Linked DNA regions of Homo sapiens: region 2 is linked to region 1. Evidence: fine-mapped expression QTL. A gene starts in region 1. The other region holds a variant in brackets. All regions are shown on one strand. Distances are from middle to middle.

Region 1 (4,383 bases):
GCAACACAGGGAGACCCTGTTTCTACAAAAGTAGAAAACTTAGCCAGGTGTGGGCCGGGCGCAGTGGCTCACATCTGTAATCCCAGCACTTTGGGAGGCTGAGGCGGGCAGATAATGAGGTCAGGAGATCGAGACCATCCTGACTAACACGGTGAAACCCCGTCTCTACTAAACATACAAAAAAAAAAAATTAGCCGGGCATGGTGGCGGGCGCCTGTAGTCCCAGCTACTCGGAAGGCTGAGGCAGGAGAATGGCATGAACCCGGGAGGCAGAGCTTGCAGTGAGCCGAGATCGCGCCACTGGACTCCAGCCTGGGTGACAGAGCGAGACTCCGTTTCAAAAAAAAAAAAGAAAACTTAGCCGGGTGTGCTGGTGCATGCTTGCAGCCCTAGCTACTTGAGGGGGTCAAAGCAGGGGGATTGCTTGAGCCCAGGAGGTCAAGGCTGCAGTGAGCTATAATTGTGCCACTGCATGCCACCCACGGCGACAGAGTGAGACCCTATCTCAACCCCCCACCCCCAAAAAGAAATTCTGATATACACTAAACATGGATGAACCTGGGGCTTGAGGACATTATGCTGGGTGAAATAAGCCAGTGACAAAAGGTCGAATGCTATATGATTCCACTTACATGAGGCCCCAATAAGTAGATAAACTCACAGAAAACAGAAAGATGAATGATGACTGCCAGGGGCGGGGAGAAGGGGGCAAGGTGGAGTTAGTGTTTAACTGGCAGGGAGTTTCGGCTGAGGAAGATGAAAGTGCTCTGGAGATGGATGGTGGTGATGGTTGCAAAACAAAGTGAATATACTTAATGCCACCAAACTATACACTTAAAAATGCTGAAAATGGCATGAACCTGGGAGGCGGAGCTTGCAGTCAGCTGAGATGGCGCCACTGCACTCCAGCCTGGGCGACAGAGGGAGACTCCATCTCAAAAAAAAAAAAAAAAAAAAAAACACGCTGAAAATGGTAATTTTATGTTATGTATATTTTACCACAATCAAAAAATAAAATGTAAAACTGGGACACTGAAGAAATGTGATGACAAATGATCTTACTTTGGCTCCTAGACCAGAAAAAATTCCTCTAAAGGACATTATTGGGATAACTGGCACAACCTGAATATGGACTGTAAATTAGGTAATTAAATCAATGTGAAAATTGTCCTGACTTTTATCATTGTACTATGCATATTTAAGAGAATCTCCTTTTTAGGAGGTACTCACTGAAACATGTAGAGATAACAGGACATACGTATGCAAGAAACTCTCAAATGGTTGGGGGTAGGAATAAATAAATATAAATGTATGTACATGTATTATATATATGTATATGTATATGGAAAGCAAGAAGAAAATATAATAAAACCCAATGGTAACAAATGGAGAATCTAGATGAAGCTATACAGGGTTCTTTGCACAGTTCTTCTAACTTTATCCTAAGTCTGAAATCATTTCAAAATAAAGTTTTTAAAAATTAATCTGTCCAAAATAGAGTTTCTTATCCCCAAACTGCTCCACACAGCAAACCCATCATAGAAAATGGCAGCTCTTTCTCGTTGCTCACATCAAAACTCTGAGAGTCCACCCTAACTCTTTTCTTTCACACCCATTCCCATGCCCCAGCAGATCCTACCGGCTGCACCTCGGAAATAGTTTTAGCACTTGTCCCTCGGCCTCCCCGCTAGTCCGGATCAGCCTGATCCTTGCTGGGTCGCTCCTCACAGGTCCCCTGCTCGTGGACTCGGCCCCCTCTGCGCTATTTTCAACACATCACCCAGAAGGATTCCGTCAAAACCCAAGCCAGGTCGTCACCCCCTGCTCGGAACCCTCCGACACCCCACATGGCCTACAGGGAGCCACAGAGGGGTCCCTGCTGCTTCTCAGCCCCTCCGGCTCCCGCCCCCATCCTCCTGACCTCCTGCTGCCGGCGACCCCAAGCCCGGGAGCCCTCACGGCGGGGCGCACCCCTGCACCTCCTGTCTGCCCAATGTCACTGCCCAGAGCACCCTGCGGAACAGCCCACGCTCCCCCCAGGTCCCCTTCTCCTTTGAGGCCCCAGGCCGCGGAGCTACTTGTTCATCGTGTTTCCCTCCACGAAACCAGTGCTTCCCGAGTGGTTCCTTCAACCCCGCTCTGGCGGGCGACCGCTGATGTGGACAGAGCGAGTCACCGGGCGTAGGGGTCCCTGGGAGCCCCCCCACCCACCGCCTCTGCCCTCCCCACGTCGAGAGCCGTTGCCCGTCAGGGGAAGCTGCACTCCCACGGCCCATACAAGTGGGAGGCCTCTGGGGAAGCGGCCCTGGACATTCCGTTTGCCTCTCTGGAGGGGAAGGGGTGGCCCAGAGCGAACCCCCACACCCCCTCTCCCATTGCCTGCTCACCCCATCACCTCCCCTCCCTACAAGGCCCTCTGTGCAGCCCGGGCTGGCACAGCAAGGAAGGGGGGCTCACCCCAGAGCGCCCCCGCCTGCCAGCCCGTGGGTCGAGGCCAAATAAGGCCGGACGGCAGCCGAGGGCCCCCGCACCCCGCCCGCGGCCCCGCCCCGCGCACATTCTTCTGCCTTGTAAGGCCCGGCCGCCACGCCCCGCCCCCGCCTGGAGTCCAGACCCGACGGCCGGCCCAGTTCCACGCACCCAGCGAGCCCAAGCGCCTTCTCCGCACCAGGTGGGATCCGGGGCCCCGGGGGTCTTGAGGACAGGCCTAACGGCCCAGGGCTGGAGATGAGAGGTGGCCCGGGCCCGACCCGGCTGTCACGGGGGGCAAAGGCGGGCCCCACGGACTGGGACGTGGTAGGGTCTGTTGGGCACGGACTGAGGGGTGAGCTGGGGCAGCGAGTTTGCTGGGGGCCGACAGGGACTCTGGCCAGGGGCCGGGCAGCAGGAAGGCTGTTCTGGCCTCTGAGAAGCAGTGGTCCTGCGGCAAGGGAAGGCCATCGTCCAGGCCCTGCCCCTTTGCTGAGGAGCTGGAGATGCCAAGCCCAGAGCTCCGGGGGGGGCTGGGGAGCCCGGGTACAAGGGTGCTGGGGAGAGGGTTGCAGTCGTCAGTTCCCCCTGGCCCAGTAAAGGCATGTGTGTCACAGATGGAGAAACAGCCCTGTGGGACTCCACGCCCCCACAGCATCTGTGTCCCCTCCCCATCTCCCATCCCTACACCCTGGGCCAGGGGAAAGGGACCGAGACCAGGGGGCCCTTCCGACACAGCCAGTGCTGTATGCAGGGACCCGGGCCTTCCCCTCTCTGGGTCATCTCGCCTGTGGGTGGGGAAGGTCTGCGGAGGGCCCTGATGGACTCACCCCTAGGGGGCAGGACGAGGACTAGTGGCTGGGAGAACCTGATCCCTGCTCTTCCCAGCCCTCCAGCTGCTCTAAGGAGGAGACTCAGATGAGGTGCACTGAGAAGGAGGCATCTGGCCTGCCCAGCTCCAGGGGCTGGAGGTCATGGGGGCACTGCCCTGTGCTGGCTTCAGCCCAGCCTTTTCTGTTATGGTGGGAATCTGGACACCAGGATGGGGGACATGGCATCCAGTCACATCCAGGCCAAGTATCAGTGCTGACCCCTGGTGTCTAGGGCACCTGAAGGGGGAAGCGATGGCCTCAGAACTAAAGGCCCCACCCATGCCTGCCCCTCGCCCCTCCACCAGTTCTAGAAGGCGCCTCTGGATACACAGAGCCCTTTCCCACTCCACTGCCACAGGCCCGCCTGAGGACTGGGGCTCCCTGTTTTGTTCAAGCCTCGAGGGCACCAGCAGCCAAGTTTGCTCTCCACTGACCCAAACCTAGCCCAGGAATCCTGTCTTCCAGGTGGCCCCTCCCCCTCTCATGGGCACTCCACTCCCCTTCTGGGGCCTCTTTTCCTAGCTGCACCATGGGGGCACCCCTGCCTCCGCTCACCACTTCCCACAATTGCTGGGGTGGACATGGCGGCCTTGTGCAAGCCCTTAAGTACAGTGCTCCCAGCCACACCACAGCAGAGAGTGCAGACCGGGTGGCCATGAAGGCAGAGGGGCCCAGCTGGGCTCAGACCCAGCTGTGGGTGGCCTGGCCATGCCTGCCCTAGAGCTTCATAGAGTGTGGTGGGGACAGTGATGGCCATCACAGCCTCTGTTGGGCACAGTGCACTGCCTCTCTGCATGCAGCCTTCTGTGGGCACCAGGAGTCAAAGTTCCCGAGAACACTGGACTCAGGGAAGGACTAGGCCCCTCTAAAGCACGGGAGAGGAGGGGGCCGGCATCTGGGGACAATGGCACTCCCAACTAGGTCATGGGTGAGAAGGAATTCTGTCTACCTTCCTGAACCATGCAAGAAACACTGAGGGCTGGGTGTGTCGGTCCGTGGGACACGGGCAACCACTGTCTCATGACTACAGGCAGTGATGGCC
Region 2 (4,383 bases), 92 kb after region 1:
TGGGTTTCTAGCTCTGACTGGCTACTGACCCAAGAGATCCTGTCACCATTTTAATGTTTTGCCAAGAGATCAGAATCATGTTGTGTCTTGGGGAAGGAGGAATCACCTCCTAGTCAACGCAGAGAAATTCTGTGACTATACTCTATTAAAAATCCTAGTTGCCAATGTGTTGGCTGAGCCTAGATCCCTACTGTGGGCCATTCACATTCACTTTTATTTTTTGAAATGGAGTCTGGCTCTGTTGCCCAGGCTGGAGTGCAGTGGTGCAATCATGGCTCACTGCACCCTGGAACTCCTGGACTTAAGTGATCCTCCCACTTCAGCCTCCGAAGTAGCTCGGACTACAGGGATGCACCACCATGCCTCACTACATTTTAAATTTTTTTGTAGAGAAGTGGTCTCATTATGTTGGCTAGGCTGGTCTCAAATTTCTGGGCACAAGTGATTCTCCCACCTCAGCCTCCCAAAGTGCTGGGATTACAGGTGTGAGCCACAGTGCCCGGCCTGTATTATTTTTAGAAATGCAGATTTTTGCTCTATTGCTGATAGGCTCTCATGGCAGCAACATGGCAGATGACAGCCAGACTGCTAGACACCAAGGCTAGGAACTCCAGCCCTTCACATTTGGCCTTCTGCCCCACCCTCAAGTCATATCACACTTGGCTCTTGGCATTGGAGGGGCAAGCCCTGGCATCACTGTGGATCTCAAATAGAGGTATGTTTCCCAAACTCTGTGCCATGGAACACTGGCTTCCAGTGACCCAGGAGCTCCCTGAGAGCAGGGACCATGGCCACCTCACTCAGCAGAGATGCCTAAGGCCTGACACATACAGTAGGTCCTGTCCTTCCCTGAAGCCTCCCCACATCATAGGTGCTGGAGAAGCATTTGCTGAATGAATGAACATGGAGTGACTCTGACTGGTGCTGCATGATGAAACACTCCTGTGTCAGAAACACTTGGGAAATGCCCAGTTAGGCAAACGCGACGCCTTAAGAAGTCTTGTGTTAACACGGATTGTGAACCTCTCAGAGAAGGATACGATTTTCGGGGTCCCCTAAACTGACCCCCCATCTCCTCTACTTCTAAGCAGGTGGCCCACAGAACACACTCAGAGAGTCCCTGTAATGCATCCTCTCGTTTCCCCCAAAACACACGCCCAGCACTGTGTCTCTGCTGAGTAGCAACCCCACTGCCTTGGGAGAAAACCAAAGCTTCTCAGCTCGGCATCCAAGGCCTCTGTGCTGGAGCTTGCTCACTTCTAACCTCCTATTGTCCCGAGGTGCAGCCCACTGGCCCACCCCAGCACCACTGTGTCTTGTTGCCTGGGATCCTGTGGGAACATCCCTCAGGATCCCAGGTCCACTCCTCCAGGTCCACTCATGGTCTATTCCTCCATGAAGCCTCCCTTGATTGCTCCAAAGTTAGCTGCCTCTCCTCTGCTTTCATGGCCTGTCTCCATCTCCCCCAGCCTGGGCTCCACATGGTTCATATGGGCAGGACACGGAGCTGGGGCTCAGGAAATCTTGGTTGACTGAGAAGTCAGGCAAAGCCTATTTTCTGGGCCGCACCTGCAGCCATATATCTGTGGGCTCCTTTCTGAGACCTCCACGTAGGGAGGGCCTGGGCTGGCACCGAGCTTACTCACCTCTCCTGGTCTGGCTCTCCCGGATGAGGAAGGCCCCTCCAGGGTTCCCAGGTAACAACAGCAGTTCCTCTGCTTTCTCCCTGCTCAGGCCCTCATACAGCCACCTGGCGGAGCGAAAGAGAGGGACAAGGGACAGGGTCAGCCTGGAGGAAGAGGGAAGCCAAGATTTTACCACCACCGCTGAGTGACCCTCACAAGGCCCTCCCTCTCTGGGCCTCAGAGTTCTATCTGCTCCACGAAGAGCTGGGCTCAGGGTCTCCGAGGTCCATGCCATTTTTGTCCTCCCAGTCCTGGCTCCAGGGCCCTGGGAGGACAAACTCATGGGGACAGCCTCAGCTTTCTCTGCCTGGAGACCTCATTCCCCCAAGTAACCTGGGTTGGTCCCAGCCTCTCTGCTATCCCTGCTCAGTCCCCAAAGCACCCTGATTCTATCCACTCACCTTTCTAAGCCTCAGCTTTCCAAGAGCTGCCCCTCTGTTTTTTTCTTTTTTTACTGAGACAGGCTCCTGCTCTGTGGCCTAGACTAGAGTGCAGTGGCGCAATCACGGCTCACTGCAGCCTTGACCTTCCAGGCTCAGATGATCCTCCCACCTCAGCCTCCCTAGTAGCTGGGACTACAGGTGCGCACCACTGTGCCAGCCCCTCACGCCACATGCTGCCATCTCCTACGTGGACTTTTCAGCATTTTCCACCAC[G/A]AGATCCTGGCAACCTCCAAAGCCCAGAGCTCCACACCTCCTCTGTGGGCCTTCCCAAGCCCTTCCTCTGGCTCCCACATCTCACAGGCCAACCTGTGCTAGGATGAGCTGTCTGCCCCTCTTGAGGGCAGGACCTGGGTTCGATTCTCCCCCATCCCCAGCTTTGCTCAGCGCAGAGCCGTGCACAAAGGGGAGTTCTTGTGGGAGGAGAAAGCAGGAAGCTCTGCAAGGCGGGCCTGGGGTGGGAACTCACCCATGGGAGACTTTGGCCACGTGGACGCTGGGGATGTTATACTCTCTGCCTGAGACTTCAGACAGCACCGTCCACCAGTCTCCATCCCTGGAGAGAGAAAGGAGTGGGGGCACCTCTTTCAGATGAGCCAAGGCCCCGACAACCACACATTCAGGGCTTGCAAGGACCCTCTCAGGCTGGATCCTGTGGCCACCTGTCCTGCCTGTTTCCCAGGCTTCCCTGCACTAGCCTGTCCAGGTACCTCCTGAGTCAGGGCTGGGGCTGGTGGTAGATGCACAATTCCAGGCTCCCTGCTACAGGGCGCTGCCCACCCACTGCTTCTCCCTGTGGGGGTGTCCAGCCGCCTGAAATTCCACCACAGGGTTTCTGTGAGCGCTTCAGCAAAGGCTTGTGCTTTTCTACCTGGGGGAAGGGCCCCTTCTCCCGGGACAGTATCTCTAATTCCTTCCTTCTTTTATTTTTTTGAGACAGAGTTTTGCTCGTCGCCCAGGCTGGAGTGCAATGGCGTGATCTCAGCTCACTGCAACCTCCTCCTCCCAGGTTCAAGTGATTCTCCTGCCTCAGCCTCCCAAGTAGCTGGGATTACAGGCGTCTGCCACCAAGCCCGGCTAATTTTTGTATTTTTAGTAGAGACGGTTTCACCGTGTTGGCCAGGCTGGTCTCGAATTCCTGACCTCAGGTGATCTGCCCACCTCAGCCTCCCAAAGTGCTGGGATTACAGGTGTGAGCTACCACGCCTGGCCCATTCATTTATTTTAGAGATGACAGGGTCTTGCTGTCACCCAAGCTGGAGTGCACTGGCTTGATCATAGCTCATTGCAGCCTTGAGCTCCCGAGCTCCAGCGATTCTCCCACCTAAGCCTCCCAGACAGCTAGCGCTACAGGCACACACCACCATGCCTGGCTCTATTAGTGCATATTCAGGTATCCAGTGCCCATGGACTTACTCAGAGACGATGGTCAATGGCTCCCCGAGTCTCAGCGACAGCTCGGCCGGGCCACCTGCCGGGAAACTGCCCAGGGCCACGGCTGTGGCCTTGCTTCTCTCTAGATGGAGGGACAGAAATAGTCACCTACTTAGCTAGCCCTGCTCCACGCATGAGGTCTAGTGGAGTCTGGCCTGGGTCTGGCTCCCAGCATCAGCCCTCCACAAGCACCCTGAGGGAGTCCCATCCACTTCCTAAGAGGGCCACCCTGGAATCAAGCTTTTCCAGCAGAACTTTGCAGAGCCCTGACAGTGCCCAGAGAGAGAGAGAGAGAGAGAGAAAGAAAGAAAAAAAAAATAGTGATAGGGTCTTGCTCCATCACCACTGCACGTAGGCTGAGCGACAGGGCAAGATCCTATCTCTAAAAATTAGGCTCAATGCAGCCTTGACCTCCCGGGCTCAAATCCTCCAGCCTCAGCCTCCTGAGTGGCTGGGACTACAGGTGTGCACCACTACACCCGGCTAATTTAAAACAATTTTTTAGTAGAGATGAGGTCTTGCTATGTTGCCCAGGACACGGTGGCCATGAGGCTCAGAATGTGGTGACCATAAGGCCCAATTTCAAGGCTGGGCATCAGGCGGCAAGGGCACCCTCAGCACAGCACCCACGCCCTCAGCCACCCCAGAGGGCAGCCTGCTCAGGCCAACCAGACTCCCTATGACCGCCGAGCCTTGTAGCCTGAAAATCCAGGTTTCAGCAGCTGCTGAAGGCCACTCACTGCACCCTAGCATCCCTCCCTTCTTCCCCCTTGTCCTTTTTCTGTAAGGATTCCTTAGCACATAAACACATTAAGTAGGAGAAG

The links.
Region 2: its variant is fine-mapped to the expression of MYL9 in whole blood (TOPMed, PIP above 0.99).

The regions. Positions count from the first base shown.
Region 1 is chr20:36,538,891-36,543,273 of GRCh38, forward strand. It overlaps MYL9 (myosin light chain 9), which reads left to right and starts at 2,629. Exons shown (of 4, transcript NM_006097.5): 1 at 2,629-2,671. All of the region lies in intron 2 of DLGAP4-AS1 (DLGAP4 antisense RNA 1), which reads right to left. RefSeq lists a silencer at 2,450-2,649 and enhancers at 3,430-4,083, 4,084-4,383.
Region 2 is chr20:36,630,949-36,635,331 of GRCh38, forward strand. It overlaps SLA2 (Src like adaptor 2), which reads right to left. Exons shown (of 8, transcript NM_032214.4): 3 at 3,542-3,641; 4 at 2,595-2,681; 5 at 1,647-1,750. Among named protein-coding and RNA genes, the nearest start is that of SLA2, 13 kb to the right of the region's middle. RefSeq lists an enhancer at 2,078-2,579. The variant G/A (reference allele first, on the strand shown) is at 2,342.